3 linked regions of the Homo sapiens genome follow. The protein of the gene in region 1 interacts with the protein of each later gene in a pairwise test. Each region holds a gene or a part of one and is shown on either strand. Other genes may lie near its edges. The genes, in order: BNIP3L, HTR2B and KLHL23.

The links.
Region 2: the proteins of BNIP3L (region 1) and HTR2B interact in a two-hybrid assay, tested with the Homo sapiens proteins (one large-scale study listed by BioGRID and IntAct).
Region 3: the proteins of BNIP3L (region 1) and KLHL23 interact in a two-hybrid assay, tested with the Homo sapiens proteins (one large-scale study listed by BioGRID and IntAct).

Annotation. Positions count from the first base shown.
Region 1 is NC_000008.11:26,389,470-26,393,125, reverse strand, and holds part of BNIP3L (BCL2/adenovirus E1B 19 kDa protein-interacting protein 3-like), read right to left. Parts: intron 2,714-3,656; exon of another isoform or gene 2,609-2,713; intron 1,884-2,608; coding exon 1,700-1,883; intron 1-1,699.
Region 2 is NC_000002.12:231,118,511-231,122,166, forward strand, and holds part of HTR2B (5-hydroxytryptamine receptor 2B), read right to left. Parts: intron 1-3,656. UniProt on the Homo sapiens protein: G-protein coupled receptor for 5-hydroxytryptamine (serotonin). Also functions as a receptor for various ergot alkaloid derivatives and psychoactive substances.
Region 3 is NC_000002.12:169,743,795-169,747,450, reverse strand, and holds part of KLHL23 (kelch-like protein 23), read right to left. Parts: intron 1-3,656.

The sequences.
Region 1 (3,656 bases):
GTTAGTAGGCTATCCCAGAAGACTCGAGTTCTAGCCATTCTCTGAAAGATGACCACTAATCTAGGGCCTGGAGAGACATAAGATGAGGGGTACGAAAGTGTTCAAAAGCATTTGCCATGCCTCCTCATGGCAACCTAAACTTAAACATGATCATAGGAGGGTGAAGGCATATTCAGTCACACGTAAAACTGCACCATAAATGAAGTAAGATGAACAGACAGGTAAGCAGGTGACTGTTCTCTGCTCATTGACAGCACCATGTGAACAACAGGCTCATGGACACCATGGTATCAATGATCAAGGCCCACACACCTGAACGCAGAGTGAAAGCCTTGTTGACAGGCCATAACAAGCAGAAAACTTGAGAAACCCATCAGCAAGTTCCATAATATAAATATAAATCTTCATTCGGAAAGACAGACTAATGCTGTAGCTACTGGAATCAAGGGCAAGCTGTTCAGAAGAGAGCCATCTGCTCTGGTTCCGCTTATGACAAGAGCCATCCCAGGCTCTAAGAAGCACAGGGACAAGTCAGGGATGACACGGGGGTGGCGGGGGTGCACAGTGTGCCACAGAGCCAACAAACCAGTCCCCCGCTGCCTTGGCAACATTAGTGGATCATAAGCCACTCAGGAAGTTGGACATGATTTAACTCATTTCTCCTTTTTTTCACTTCTTCTGATAAGTAATAATATGTGCAATATACACAATTTTTACAAAATACAAAAATGTTAAGAAGAAACATATCCATACTGCATTCCTAAAAATAGTCACTGTTTACATTTCCTTAATCTGCTTCCCGTGCATTTGCATTTTCTAAATGGTTAACATCAGTTAACAACCACCCAGAAGGTCATCCAGTGCCCCATAATGCTAACAGTGTAGCTGTCACTGAAACAAGAATTTCTTAAATGTCATTTAATATCTAGCCCTTCTGAAAAAAAAAAAAAAAAACAGAAAAGTTTATACTAAAAAATAATGACCTGGTTTCATTCCACACACATATCTCGTTGTATTCTTACTCTTTCACCATAAGCAGTCCTTAATCCATGTAATTAGTTTCTTCAGCTCAAATATAGAAAAATGAGGTCTGAAACAAAACATCCCCTGAGAAAGCAGAGGAGACTTCAAAACTATCTTTACAGACCTTGGTTGGTGCTTCCAACTGTGCAAATATTGCTATAACGTGAAGCAACCTGCAGTTCCTATGAATCAAACATTTACTGAGTGTCTACTACGTGCCAGCACCATTACTGTGAAGGTAATAAAAATTAAACATGGCCCCTGCCCTTTGCAACGTCAACATCTAGAAGGGAAGACACATATATACAGAGGTAACTAATTCAAGAACAGTCTGTGATCTGTAACACAGGGACACAAAGGAAAATGGGGGAAAGTCAGATTAATTCTATAAATTAGCATTTATGCCACTGAATTTTAAACTGATAAACTGCTAGAAACAATATAATCTGGGTAAGAAAAATGACAATCTGGGGAAAAACAGTGGGCACTGAAGCACCTGTCAATTAGCTGTCTCATATAAACACAATATATATCTGTGCAATATATATTATACTACAATATATCAGGAGGCATATTTTGCTAAGTGAAGATTTAAGCAAACAGATTTTTCCTAGAGTGAATGAGCCCTGTAACCCACCTGTTTCCTGAATTCCACCAAAACATGGGTCTCACTTACCTGTCACAGTGAGAACTGCCTCTGGAACTACTCTGTCCTGATTCATGTTGTGCATCCAAAAGAATCTTCTCCATGTCTCCATTGTGGATGGAGGATGAGGATGGTACGTGTTCCAGCCCCCCATTTTTCCCATTGCCATTATCATTGCCATTGCTGCTGTTCATGGGTAGCTCCACCCAGGAACCTGTTGGACAAGTCAGATAAGTTAACCACAGCAGAACTGAAATCTGTCATGTGCACACAGATGTGAACATGGTGAATCCAGATAAGAATTCTGACTCTCCTCAAACCAAATGTAAAAGTATTCTGAAGAAAATAAATAAGAAGTAATAAAAGTCTAAAGATCTATATAGTTCTGTTCCTGAAATAGCTCATGCCATCAACTGAGAAACAGCTCAAACTCTAAAACATCTCAGAAAACGTGTTTTTCAGTCAATTTCTCTCTGGGTAAAGCTTGGTTTATAATAACACTCTACTGAAAACTCAGGTTGCTTTTCAAAAAAAAATTGCTACTTTTAGGCTATTTACCTTTAACATTTTAGTTGGTGTATATATACACACACACTTTCTTCATAGTCTACCTAAGCTGCTCAGCTGTATCTGCTCCAGAAATGAAATAAATATATCACCTACAAATTTCATAAAAGGTCATCTAAGTAAGTTAGCAACTATATCCTACTTAGTGCAAACAACTGAGAAACTCCTAGAGAGGGAACCTAAATCCAATAGCAAAAATTTCAATTTGTGCACAAATCAGGAGCATAAAATTAATGCAGCTGGTTAACTAAATCAGGTAATAATGCTAAAAATTCAGAAAAAAGCTTTATCTCTATCTCACTGATTAGTTTCTTCATTTCCTTTGTATCTCAGGCTTTCTAGTCCTTCTCCTTTTTTATACACTAAACATACCTTGTGAACTTGTCTTTTTTCTTTTCTCTCCCACGGGTTTCTACTTTCTAGGGTTTTCATTAAACCCTGTTGATTTGGGAGCAGAAACAACTGCACATCAGCTACAGGCAAACACGAAAAGTTTTCTTGGACAAAAAGTTGAAGGGGTGGAGCCACAGAAAAAGGGGATGTGCCACTGGTAATTCTGCATACATCTTGAAAATATTTATTGGTCTGATGAGTTTGCTAAACGTATTAAGGTGCTTTAATTTTAACAAGAGTTGAGGCCAGGTACAGTGGCTCACACATGTAATCCCAGCACTTTGGGAGGCTGAGGCACCAGGATTGCTTGAATCCAGGAGTTTGACACCAGCCTGGGGAACATGGCAAGACCCTGTCTCTACAAAAGAATAGTAAGTAAGTAAGTAAATAAATTGTTAACAGTAGCCAATAAACTTAACTTCACAGCAAAAAGAGATAGTGGTATATTTTGTTCATAATTTCCATTTCTTACAATAAATTTTGTTTTAGAAAATGTACCCAAGCAGCTTGGTGTGGCCATCCCTCTAAACTCCCAGCAGAAGTGTTAGAGAGTTCCAGGGATGAACAAGGAGTTCCATCAGTAAGTTGAAGTAAAATCATCAAAACTGGCTCAAACTCTAAAATGCACTCTAAATGTGGCGATGGCTACACCAGTTCCAGAGTGAACTGAACATCACCCTCACAAGAAGGAAAGCTCCAAGGCAGACCTAGCTGGGAATCTGACCCCATCACTTCCTGTCTACCTGTGTGACCTGAGCTTCAGCTTCCTCATTTGTAAACAGAGATAATAATAACACCGGGGTGCTGTGACGATTTAGTAGTATCAAGTGCTGGTAAATAGAAGATGCTCAGTTATACACTAGAATTTTCTTTTATAAATACTTAGAACCCTTTCCTTTCCATTTGAGGCAGCCCCAGTGGCTACCACCATCCCATAGTCACCACCAATTCCTTAGGACTCTGCTGCCAAACGACACAGTTGTACAACATCTCCATGGCCTCATTCTATACACACATAAAATGGACA
Region 2 (3,656 bases), on another chromosome or scaffold:
TTTATTTTATATACGGTACAGGAAAATAACCTGTATGCATTGCATGCCTGGGTTTTTTGTTGGTTTGGGTATTTTTTTGTTTGTTTTTGCTTTCTTTTGAATTAGTACAAAAACCTGAGGAGTTTTACTAGAAACCCCGTATCTTGATGAGGCAGACTTATTTTATCTGAAACCTGCTTAACCTTTGGGCAGCTTTTTAGTTTGGGAAGTCAGGTTACACTATTTGTCCGGAAAATAATTAGCATCAGTCCATAAATCTGGGACATAAAATGTTTCCCTTTGGAGGATGTAAAAGACTATTTTTAAAGGCATTCCAAGTGGGCTGTTCCTATAGTTTACAGAGGTACTCAGTTCATGAACTTATTGCAGCAGGACAAATCATAAATACTTCTTATGTCCAAAAAGAACATAATTTTCAAATATACATTTATCTCAGAAATTCTAATGCTTCTGTCTTTATCTTCCAGAAAAGAAAGACATAGTTCAGTTCAAATTATTGTTTAAAAGTTTCTGTTTTGTTTTTTACTTTTTTCACTACATTTGAGCATATGAGTTATCCTGGGGTTCAGTGTCTAATATGATAGTGTTTTAAATGTTTTAAGCATTTTAATGCTTACAGAATTTTTTCCTGGTTTTTAAAATTTCCACTTTACAAAAAGAAGTGCCTTTAATTCATTGCTTTTCTCCTCCATTTCAGAATTGGGTAGGCTAACATTTTACTGCATAAATGAATAACTGCCATTTTTCTCTTACTGCTATACATTTGTTTCATCTCTGATTAGACTTGCATCTCAACTAAATCATATTTAATTTGCATGCAGTACTCTACCAGTTACTATTAGTGCTTATAAGATGCTGGGCCCTGCTTGACAAGGTGATTGAGCTCTGAAATAATAAGTGATTGAACTCTGAAATAATAAGTGACTTGCCTGATCCAACACGGGAGAACCAGGATTCAGACCCTGGGATGTCTTGCTTCAAACAGCCATCTTTCAGCCATTTTATATACTCTTTCAGCTATACCACGGATACTGTTTGAACTTATAGATCATGAGGCATCAATTGAAACTTAAGTTATAGCCAGGTTTGGTGGCTCATGTCTGTAATCCCAACACTTTGGGAGGCCGAGGCAGGTGGATCACCTGAGGTCAGGAGTTCAAGACCAGCCTGGCCAAAGTGGCAAAACCCCATCTCTACTAAAAATACAAAACTTAGCCAGGTGTGGTGGCCTGCGCCTGTAGTCCCAGCTACTCGGGAGGCTGAGGCAGGAGAATCGTTTGAACCTGTGGGTGGAGGTTGCAGTGAACTGAGATCATGCCACTGCCCTGCAGTCTGGGCAACAGAACGAGACTCCGTCTCAAAAAAAAAAAAAAAAAAAAAACTTATAAATAAACCAATAACACCCAATGGATGGCCAGATGCCATATCTTCCCGTGTTACTTTTTTTTTTTTTTTTCCCTGAGACAGAGCCTCACCCCGTCACCCAGGCTGGAGTGCAGTGGCACCATCTCGGCTCACTGCAACTCTGTCTTCCGGGTTCAAGCTATTCTCCTGCCTCAGTCTCCCGAGTAGCTGGGACTACAGGCGCGTACCACCATGCCCAGCTAATTTTTGTATTTTTAGTAGGGACAGGGTTTCGCCATCTTGGCCAGGCTGGTCTCGAACTCCTGACCTCAGGTGATCCATCCGTTTCAGCCTCCTAAAGTGCTGGGGTTACAGGCATGAGCCACCGTGCCCAGCCTCCCCTGTTACTTTTTAAATCACTTATAAAATGAAACAAAGATTCAGAGAAGCTCTTAAATGGTGAACATCCTGTCTTTTTTATATCAGCATAAGGTGTTGTTTTCTTGCTCAAGTATTTCTAACGTAGGTATTTTCAAGCCTTGTGTTATAAGCTGTTGATTTGTGATCATGGATTTTAGGAATTATGGACAAGACAATAAAAAACTACAACTGTAAAGATCAAGTCCAGTGCTCCCAGATAGGAAGAAGTGGCAGAAAAATTGACCTAGCACAACTCATTTGAAAGACAATGTTGTGCCTGAGTTGTCATAATCTTGGGAAAATATGAATTCAAACCGTATATTGTTAAATATTATACAGATCAGTGGTTGAATAAAATATCTCTCAGTATAAGGACAGAAGGTCCACTTTTATATTTTACTGCTCTTATTTTTAAAATTTCATTTTATTAGACTACGAGCTAGTATAGTTTTTGTGTTACTTTCATTGAATTCCCCTGCGATAGCTAAAATTATTGCTCATAGTGATAGTTAATCTTTTATCATAGAACCAAGAACGCTTGTTTGTACAAACGTTAGAAGTCCTAAAGATTAACACTACAATAAGAGTGTAAAGTCTAATTCTGCCTTTTAAAGTTATCAGAAGTTCTTATAAATGCATTAGTTTAGAAAAATCTTTGTGTTTATTAACTTGCAAAAGGTTATAAAAATATCTTGGTATTTGAAGTCAGGTTTCCATTTGTAATACATGCAGTTCCCAATTTATGAATTCATCCTTTGAAGTTTGTTAGAGGGCAACATGTGTTTTTTTCCTACATTTTTTCATAGAAATTGAATTATGCTTTAAATAATGCAATAATGTATTAGATAGTAGTTCACAGATTTGTTCATTTTTTAAAAATCTACAAACCCCACTATACAACTTATTTCTGATAGTAAAAGTGTTTGGGGCTATAAAATATTTTATTTTGTAATTAGAAATTAACAAACATGAGCCAGGCATGGTGGAATGTGCCTGTAATCCTAGCTACTTAAGAGGCTGAAGGCAGAGGATCACTTGAACCCAGGAGTTTGAGGCCAGCCCAGGCAACATTGCCAGACTCCATCTCTATTAAAATAAATAAATAAAAATAAATTTAAAGTTAATAAACATTTGGAAGAATGAAATAATATTAAAATGTCTATCAATTATTTAAGACATAAATATGAAGACATTTCACATATTTTATGTTAACATATGTTGGGTTTTCTGCTAACTTGTATTGCTAAGGATATGTTGGGTACCAGCATTTTAAATATACACTTAAAGTTTTCAGCTGCTGGATACCTATTTTTCTATAGAATACATGGAATCTATTAAACAGGTAAATCTTTGTTACCTGTTTTTGTATTTTGTTTGTTAGCTCACTTTAATTCTATGGTACTTTGCCTTTTAAGATTCCTTAACTATTTAGCTGATAATTTAAGTATCTACCATGGTACTTTGCATATAATAGATGTTTGATATTTATGGACTCAAAGATTTTAAAGCTAAAATTCACTTCTGCATAATTCTTTCAATATCATGTATTGAATGACGTATTAAATTTTATGGTAGTCTGAAATAAGCATTTTGACATTTTCTGTGTGCCTAGCAAAGCACAGTTTGAAGAGTATGATTTTACATCTTAAGCTACTATTATGCACATGGAGATGAGAGCTAGAATCATATGCCTGTACAGTATTTATCAAATATGCATATATATTTCTACATAATACTTTCTTTTAAGCTTTATTCAGAATTAGGGTTATGTTCTCTATTATAGTAAGATTTCTTAATTATTTTTCATGGTTTCATGCAGCATTAGATTATTTAAAAGATTACAAATTTATAAAACAGGGAGATAGAAAGACTGTTAATTATTAGAAAGTCTA
Region 3 (3,656 bases), on another chromosome or scaffold:
AGGAGTGGAAGACAACTTCTTACCAGTAAAGTTCTCCCTCAGTTTTTTTTTTTTTTTTTTTAGAGACAGAGTCTCGCTCTGTCTCCCAGGCTGGAGTGCAGTGGCGCAATCTCGGCTCACTGCAACCTCTGCTTCCCGGGTTCAAGTGATTCTTATGCTTCAGCCACCCAAGTAGCCAAGATTACAGGTGTGCACTGTAGCTGAGATTACGGGTGCGCACCACCATGCCTGGCTAATTTTTGTATTTTTAATAGAGATGGGGTTTTGCCATGTTGCCCAGGTGCTAGTCTTGAACTCCTGGACTCAAATAATGCACTGAGATTACAGGCGTGAGCCACCGTGCCTGGCCCTCCCTAGGTTTTGACAGCTAAGGAAAGTCTTAGAAGATTGCATTTTTGCTTCATTTCCACATATTTTTCTCGTTACTGACATCCAAGAAAATAATTATCCTACTTGTTAAAAACTCATTTTTTACTTTCCAGTTATTTATATGTTGAATTTTTATAGGATTTACTTGTTTCAAGTACTTGTGAAACACTGCTTATATCAATTATATGAATCATTCAACTAATGGTTATTGTGAAAATGATAGTTCAAATATTTTATCAGTTGGTAAAAGTGATTCAACATCACTCACTAGGCTTTTCTTAAATTACTTGAAGTTTATCAAAACACCCCAATTTTTGATTCATATGTTAAGAAAGCCATCTGTCTTCCTATAGCAGTAAAAATATTTAAGTAAAGTGATTCCTAATCATTTTTTCTCTTTTACTCAAATACAACACATGTTCTATTGTTGTGGATAGGAACTTTTTCTTCCTGAGCTGTAATTGCGTTTTTTCTTGTTAGTTAACCCCTCTAAGCCACTGAGGCTCTGGGACTGTGCCTTGCTCACTGTGCTCCTAGCACTGAGTATATAGCAGCATGTAGGATGCACACAGCAGATATGTTAGACATGAATGAGTGAACAAATGAATAATCAAGAATGGGAGTGACACCATCTGTCACGGCTCAAAAGTTTACACAGAAGTATAAAACATCAACACACAGCAGTCTGTATTCAGTGTTAGATGAGTGATATGAACAAACAGCTAGAGGGATTCAGAGAAAACCACAATATCCATTTGAATTGATTTCAATTTTTTTTCCTAAGATCTTTTCTCATTGAAGAGCCTGTAAAGTTTATGTAGTCTAACTTTCTGATTTCACTGGAAGGTAAGGCCCAAGAGCTTAGTCTACTTGCCGATGGCAAGGCAGGTAAATAAATGGCAGGGCCAGGAAAGTTCTCTCCCCACTTCACACAACTCTCCACAGGTCCTCCTTTATCACATACTGCTTCCTCTCGGCTCTTCACACCCTCTTGTTCCTCAGCTTATCCCTCAACTCTGCCCGTTTCCTAGGATTCTGCCCATAGCTGTATTGCTGGTCCCACCCTACCAAGGCATCTTATTCATCCCCATACCCAGAGCCACCATCCAAGCAAACAATCCCCAGATCTCTACATTCAGCTACCTCCCTCCTTCTCAGCTGCAAACCCACATTTCCCTTTGCCTGCTGGACAGCTCTTTTGGGTTATCCAATGATTCCTTTGCTCTAAACTATAAAATCGAGCTCATCATCTCCCCTCTTCTCCCTTCCTGTCAGCTTCTCCTTCAGTATACCTCATTCTCTCAGACAACCGGCCAGAGACCCTGAGACGACTGTCAACTCCTTTCTCTCCTTCATCTCCTGTATGCTGTCAGCCAAGGAAGCAATCAGCTGTTGAATCTATGACATTCCTCACATCGGCCCCTCTTTTCTACTCCTACCACTTCTTCAGGCTTTCAGCATTTCTCCCTTGGTTAAACACAATAGTGTTAGTAGATCCCCTTGCTGTCTTTCTCCCAATCTACCTAAAAGGAGTTCTCTTCCTTTTTTTTTTTTTTTTTTTTTTTTTTGAGACGGAGTCTCACTCTGTCACCCAGGCTGGAGTGCAGGGGCACGATCTTCAGCTCACTGCAAGCTCTGCCTCCCGGGTTCACACCATTCTCCTGGCTCAGCCTCCCGAGTAGCTAGGACTACAGGTGCCCGCCACCATGCCCAGCTAATTTTTTTGTATTTTTAGTAGAGATGGGGTTTCACCATGTTAGCCAGGATGGTCTCGATCTCCTGACCTCATGATCCGCCCACCTTGGCCTCCCAAAGTGCAGGGATTACAGGCGTGAGCCACCGCGCCCAGCCAAGAGTTCTCTTCTTAAAACCAGAGCTGGGCCAGGTGCAGTGGCCCAGTGCTTTGGGAGGCTGAGGCGGGTGGATGACTTTAGGCCAGGAGTTCAAGACCAGCCTGGCCAACATAGTGAAACCCCGTCTCTACTAAAAAAAAATACAAAAATTAGCCAGGCGTGGTGGTGCATGCCTGTAATCCCAGCTACCTGGGAGGCTGAGACACAAGAATCGCTGAACCCAAGATTGTGCCACTGCACTCCAGCCTAAGCAACAGAGCGAGACTGTCTTTAAAAAAAAAAAAACAAAAAACAAAAACCTAGAGCTGATCACACATCATTCTCTTGCTCGAAAACCTTTATGATTCTGCATTTTAAAAATTACCCAGACTGAGCTGGTTGTGGTGGCTCAAGCCTGTAATCCCAGCACTTTGGGAGGCTGAGGAAGGTGAATCACAAGGTCAGGAGTTTGAGACCAGCCTGGCTAACACGGTGAAACCCCATCTCTACTAAAAATATGAAAAATTAGCCGGGCAAAGTAGCAGCGCCTGTAATCTCAGCTACTTGGGACGTTGAGGCAGGAGAATACCTTGAACCTGGGATGCGGATGTTGCGGTTAGCCGAGATCACACCACTGCACTCCAGCCTGGGCAACACAGCAAGACTCCATCTCAAAAAAAAAAAAAATTACCCAGACTGCCATTCAAAGCTCTCCATGACATGCTCTCCAACTGAACTCTCCCATCCGATCTCCCATTCTACCCTCTTACATTCCATTCATTCATGTCTGCTCCCAGGTAATGGAATACACCTGAAACTTTCCTTTCCACCTTCCTCCACTGGGCTGACTTCTTGCCAGAAAAACCCTTCCTCAAAAACTACCTTCCTTATTTGGGGCCATTCTTTAAGGCCCAGCTCATAACCACCTACCGTTGGAAGCATTCTAAGATAGTCAGATTTCCCTTAATTAGACTTACACTCTTTTTATTCTCAATTTCAATAGCACTTGTTTTTACAGAACTTAGCAGAGACTGTCCTGTATTTCCATTATGTATGTATATTTGCTCCTGGATTCTGAGCTCCTACGGCAGTAAAGACTAACACTTAATCATCTTACATAATTATCAGAATCCTACCTTTTCCAATGTAGGGTCTCAATAAATGTCACCTTGAATTCAATGCAACTATAGTCCCATGTTTTCCAATTACACAAACTACCCCATTAAAGGGGTTAAGATAAAATATAATACTTATATTATCTTTAAAAAATAATAGTAGTCATTTCTTCTCAGTGTAAGCAATGTATCTCTATGAAGTCAACTCAAGGATGACATTTTAATTCCTCAGGAGGTACTGCTAAAATCCTTAAGAAACAAACCTTGCTATAATTCAGTGGATGCAGATGCACAGCCTTCAAGAGCTTAAGGATTTAACAGACTAGCTGAGCAAAGCCAG